Regions from separate parts of the Homo sapiens genome. Here region 1 is linked to region 2. A link means that fine-mapping ties the variant in region 2 to the plasma level of a protein whose gene starts in the linked region. Region 2 holds a variant in brackets. A gene starts in the other region. All regions are shown on their reverse strands.

Region 1 (2,500 bases), not on the chromosome of region 2:
TGTGTAGGTTGGTGGGGGGTGGGTTGGGGTTCCTCGAACCTCAGCCTAGACACCCCACCCCTATCCCCCTGCCCCTGCCCCGCACCAAGACCAGGCATTTGGGCCAAAATGCCCTGAGCTCTCTGAGACTTGGAAATCTTCAAGGGTCTGCTCTGGAATGTCACTCTGGAATGCGCCCCACCCCCCAATGCACTCCCTCCCCCAGTCCAGTTGAAGGCACAGGGGTGGGGGGCCGGCGGGGAGAGGAAGCTCCAGGAGCACAAAACCCTACTTCCAACAGTCTCCTCTCCCGGGCTTTAGGATCTTGATCGTGGAGTTTGTAAGTGATTGGGTCTTCCAGCGTGTAACACTGCGGGCCTGGGGATGGAGGTGCAAAGGACGCTGGAAAAGCCAGCCGGGAGTGGGGGTTCGGGATCTAGGGGCCAGGCTACCAGAAGGGGAGGCGCTTTGATAGTCTGAATTTCCAAACTTCCCTCAGGGGGATTCTGAACCCTCTCGTCCCTACTTGGGTCGACGGTACTGGGGTCTACACCTGCGCTCCCTGGGTGGCTGGAATGGGGAGCAAGGGAACCAGTCACTCTCTCCCATTTTTAGGGCCACAGAAACCTGCCCTCCACATCCACAGTAGCAGGCGGCAGAGAGGACGCCACCCACGAGAGAGAGTGACCGCGGACTCCCACCGAGAGGCAGGCGGTGGAGGGGCTCCTCTTGGAGACCCCGATTATGGAGTGGTTTCCCCTCCCTCCAGCCCGAGCCGCAGCGCCGGGCTCCCCCACCCCCCCAGTCCCCAGCCGGCTCGGGTTTGAAAACTTTCAGCGACCGAGCGGAGTTGGCGCGGCGTCCCCAGCCCGCAGGATGTCCAGTCCCCCCGCCTCTGCCCTCGCCCACTCCCCGCCGTCCCGACCCGACTCTTCCGGGCGGCGGAGCGGGAAGGCAGCAGCCCTTACCTGGGACTCGCCGCCGGCCCCGCTCCAGCGCAGCGTTTGGGGCCAACTCCAGCCCCAGGCGGGGGGCGGGCGGGGGTGGGAGGGACGCGGCGCGGGGCGCTGGGCCAGGCCCGGTCCTGGCTGGGATGGCGGGGCCCGGGCCGGGACGCAGGGCCTGCCTCTCCCTGGGACCGAGGCTGAGCCAGGCGCGCTGGGTTGCTCGCTCTCGCGCGGGCCTGTCCCCAGGCAGGGCTCCTTGCTTTCGGCGAGGGTGGGCTGGAGCCTGCATCACCGTTACATCACCTCCATTCAGGGCGCTAATCGGGCGCCCGCCGCGCTCCAGGTACGTGCGCTCCGTTTACACAGGAACAAAGCCTGCCCGGCCCTCCCCGCCCCGACTCACCTCCAGGCTGAGCCGACTCGTACTTTCCGGCTGGTGAGGGAGATGGGAGTTTCTGGCCCTGCCGGCGTGTGGGTTGTTGCTGTTGACTGCCACGCCCCCGCATGCGGGCGCGCGCACACTCACGCGCACTCACTTTCTGGGCTCGGCCTTCGCCGGGGCAATTGGTGTGAGGGTGCAGCCCTGCGCACCCCCCACCGCGTCTTCCAGAGAGCGCGCCTACGGACACGCGCGGGGCTACCTTGGCGCGTCTCCGTGGGGGACACCTAGCCTTTGTCACCTTCGTCCTGGCCCTCCCGTGAGACACACTTCAGGCACAGTTCGCTGGGAGCGGGCCGGAGCGAGGCGCACACTCAAGACAGAGTCCGTCTTTGTCACGCCTTCTGCGCCCCCTCCCCTCCCCAGCTTGCACACGTGGACACACCGCACACCGAGGTTCGCCTTTTGCACGCACGGTCCTTCTCTGGGACCTCCACCAGTCACCAAGCGTACGTGGGATCGTCACCAAGCGCTCCTCTCACGCGTGGGCCGAGTCCAGACCACTCTGGACCGTGGGCAAAGGTCCCCCTCGGCCCGACTACCCCGCGCCCGGGTTTCCTGTGACCGTTCCAGGTTCTGCCCAACTCGGAGCGCGCTCTCCCCTCCCGGCGTCCCCGTTCCCTGCTCCGACTTGTCCTAATTAGCCTTCACGGTTTTGTTCCCCGAGGTACAGTGTTTAGCGCGACCCCCTGGGCCTCTGCGCTCCGGGACACGTTGGCTCTGACTCCGAGTCCGTCCTTTCCAGGAGGTCAGGTTCCCACCAGCCCCACCCCCCACTCCCTGTTCCGGGGTGGATCTGTGGGTTGCCACCCTTTCCCCTCCGGCCCCAGGAATCTGCTGAAGCTGGACCGCAGAAATTGGGAAGCGAATCCAGGCTGGTACTTATCCAGCCCGATAAACAAGAGATTTTCCGGCCGCCTTCCCCCGGGGCTGCTGGCCTCGCGGGGGGTGGGGTGCGCAGTCCTGGGGGCCCGCAGCGAGGCCTAGTTAGCCCGCGCCAGAGGCCCGTAGGGGCTGAGGCGCACAGAGGAGGGAGAGGTTGTTGGGCCTGGCCAGGGCCCTGGAGACGCGGAGGGAGGGCAGGGCGCCGAGTCTCGGGGTGCCGGTTCTCATGACGCCGAATTGCCTGGGGGAT
Region 2 (3,013 bases):
CACCCAGGCTGGAGTGCAGTGGCACCATCATAGCACACTACAGCCTCGAACTCCTGGGCTCAAGAGATACACCCTGCTCAGCCTTCTCCCATGGTGCTGGGATTACAGGCGTGAGCCACTGCCCCAGCCAGACTGCCTTTTAAAAATGGACATTTTAGACCAGGCATGTGGTTCAACCCTGTAATCCCAGCACTTTGAAAGGCTGAGGCGGGCGGATCACCTGAGGTCAGGAGTTCTTGACCAGCCTGGCCAACATGGCGAAACCCCATCTCTACTAAAAATACAAACATTAGCCAGGCGTGGTGGCGCATGCCTGTAGTCCCAGCTACTTGGGAGGCTGAGGTGGGAGAATTGATTGAACCTGGGAGGTAGAGGCAGGAGAATCGCTTGAACTAAGGAGGCAGAGGTTGCAGTGAGCAGAGATTGTGCCACTGCACTCCAGCCTGGGTGACAGAGCAAGATTCCCTCTCAAAAAAAAAAAAAAAATTGACTTTTTATTTTATTTTTATTGTTTTCTAAGAGACTTTATTTAAAAAAAAAGTTTTAGATTTATAAAATTATTGAGCTGTAGTACAGAGTTCCCATGTATCCCCTCCCTCACACGCAGTTTCCCCATTATTAACATCTTGGATTAGTGTGGTACATTGTTAAAATTAATGAACTAATATCAATACATTGTTGACTAAAGCACATAGTTTACATTAAGAATCACTCTTTGTGTTGTACTTTCTATGGGTTTTGACAAAAGCATATCATGGATCCACCATTATAGTATCATATAGAATAATATCACTGACCTAAAATTCCCGTGCTCCACCTATTCATCCTTTCCTGTCCCCAGAACCCCCGGCAACCCTTGATCTTTTTACTGTCTGTAGTTTTGCCTTTTCCAGAAAGTCAAATAGTTGAAATCACACAGCACGTAGCCTTTTCAGACTGGCTTCTTTCATTTAGTAATATGGATATTACTTTTTGTGGCTTGACACGTCTTTTTTTATTGCTTAATGCATATTAATATTACTAAATGCATATTTAGTATGCATATTACTTTTTGTGGTTTGCTAAGTCTTCTTTTTATTACTTAATGATACTCCATTGCACAGATATACCACAGTTTGTTTATCCTTTCACCCATTGGAGAGCTTCTTAGTTGCTTCCAGTTTTTGGCAATTATGAATAAAGCAGCTATAAACATTCTTGCGCAGGGTTTTGTATGGATATAAGGTTTCTCTCTCTCTTTTCTTTTCCTTTTTTATTTCTTTCCTTTCTTTCTTTCTTCCTTCCTTCCTCCCTTCCTTCCCTCCCTTCCTTCCCTTCCTTCCTTCTTTTCTTTTCGTTTCTTTTCTCCTTCCTTCCTTCCTTCCTCTCTCTCTCTCTCTCTCT[C/G]TCTTTCTTTCTCTTACTCTGTTGCCCACGCTGGAGTGCAGAGGCATAATCGTGGCTCACTGCAACCTCAAACTCCTGGGGCTCAAGTGATCCTCAGCCTCAGCCTCCCCAGTAGCTGACACTACAAGTGTGTGCCACCACATGTGACTAATTAAAAAAATTTTTTTTTGTAGAGACAGAGTATCACTGTGTTGCCAGGACTGGTCTGGAACTCCTGGCCTTGGCTGAGCACAGTAGCTCACACCTGTAATCCCAGCACTTTGGGAGACCGAGGCAGGCAGGTCACTTGAGGTCAGGAGTTCAAGACCAGTCTAGCTGACATGGTGAAACCCTGTCTCTACTAAAAATATAAAAATTAGCTGGGCATGGTGGCGTGCACCTGTAATCCCAGCAGCTACTCAGAGGCCGAGACAGGAGAATCGCTTGAAGCCGGGAGGCAGAGATTGCAGTGAGATGAGATCACTCCACTGCACTCCAGCCTGGGTGACAGAGCGAAACTCTGTCTCAAAAGAAAATAAATAAATAAATAAATAAAAAGAAAGAACTCCTGGCCTCAAGCAATCCTTCCTCTTTGGCCTCCCAAAGTGATGGGATTACAGGTGTGAGCCACTGTGCTCGGCCCTGGATATAAGTTTTCACCTCAATTGGGTAACTATCTAGGAGTGTAATTGTTAGATTGTATGGTAAGACTATGTTTAGTTTTGTAAGAAACTGCCAAACTGTCTTAAAAATGGCCATACCATTTTACATTTCCACCAGCAACGAATGAGAGTCCTGTCACTCCACATCCTCACCAGCATTTGGTGTTTTTAGCATTCTGGATTTTGACCATTTTAATAGGGGTTTAGTGGTACCTTGTTGCTTCAATTTGTAATTCCTTAATGACATCAGGTTAAGCATATTTTCATATGCTTATCTTCCATCTGTATATCTTCTTTGATGAGGTGTCTGTTCACATCTTTTGCCCATTTTTTTTTTTTGAGACGGAGTCTCACTGTGTTGCCCAGGCTGGAGTGCAGTGGCGCGATCTTAGCTCATTGCAACCTCCCTGGTTCAAGCTATTTTCCTGCCGCAGACACCCAAGTAGCTGGGACCACAGATGCACGTCACCACGGTCGGCTAATTTTTGTATTTTCAGTAGAGACGGTTTCACTATGTTGGCCAGGCTAGTTGAGAACTCCTGACCTAAGGTGATCTGCCCTGCTCGGCCTCCCAAAGTGCTGGCATTACAGATGTGAGCCACCGCCACCATGCCTGGCCCGTTTGTCCATTTTTTAATGGGGTTGTTTGATTTCTTAGTGTTGGGTTTTAAGAGTTCTTTGTGTATTTTGGGTCATCAGATATTTGTTTTGCAAATATATTCTCCCAATCTGTGGCTTGTTTTCTTATTCTTTTAACAATTGCTTTTTTGTTGTTGTTGTTGAGACAGAGTCCCACTCTTTCGCCCAGGCTGGAGTGCAGTGGTGCAATCTCGGCTCACTGCAACCTCTGACTCCCAGGTTCAAGCAATTCTCATCCCTCAGCCTCCCAAGCAGCTGGGATTACAGGTGCACACCACCACGCCCAGCTGATTTTTGTATTTTTAGTAGAGACGGTATTTCACCATGTTGGCCAGGCTGGTCTCGAACTC

Alleles and levels. Alleles are on the strand shown, and positions count from the first base shown. The strength of an association depends on the size of the effect and on how common the allele is.
With allele C in place of G in region 2, the plasma level of the protein whose gene starts at base 1,383 in region 1 is lower (moderate association).

The links. A credible set is the group of variants that fine-mapping cannot tell apart. PIP is the chance, under the fine-mapping model, that this variant and not a neighbour inherited with it causes the effect. Protein levels are from antibody-based Olink assays in UK Biobank. Linkage for the fine-mapping came from a reference panel and not from the study's own genotypes, which makes the PIPs less certain.
Region 1: it holds the start of GPRC5C, and the variant in region 2 is the best candidate, but not a certain one, in a credible set for the plasma level of the GPRC5C protein (UK Biobank, PIP 0.62).

What each region holds. Positions count from the first base shown.
Region 1 is chr17:74,430,971-74,433,470 of GRCh38, reverse strand. GPRC5C (G protein-coupled receptor class C group 5 member C) reads right to left here and starts at 1,383. Exons shown (of 4, transcript NM_022036.4): 1 at 1,330-1,383. RefSeq lists a silencer at 2,371-2,500.
Region 2 is chr20:3,722,839-3,725,851 of GRCh38, reverse strand. No RefSeq gene overlaps it. Among named protein-coding and RNA genes, the nearest start is that of HSPA12B, 8.3 kb to the left of the region's middle. The variant C/G (reference allele first, on the strand shown) is at 1,384.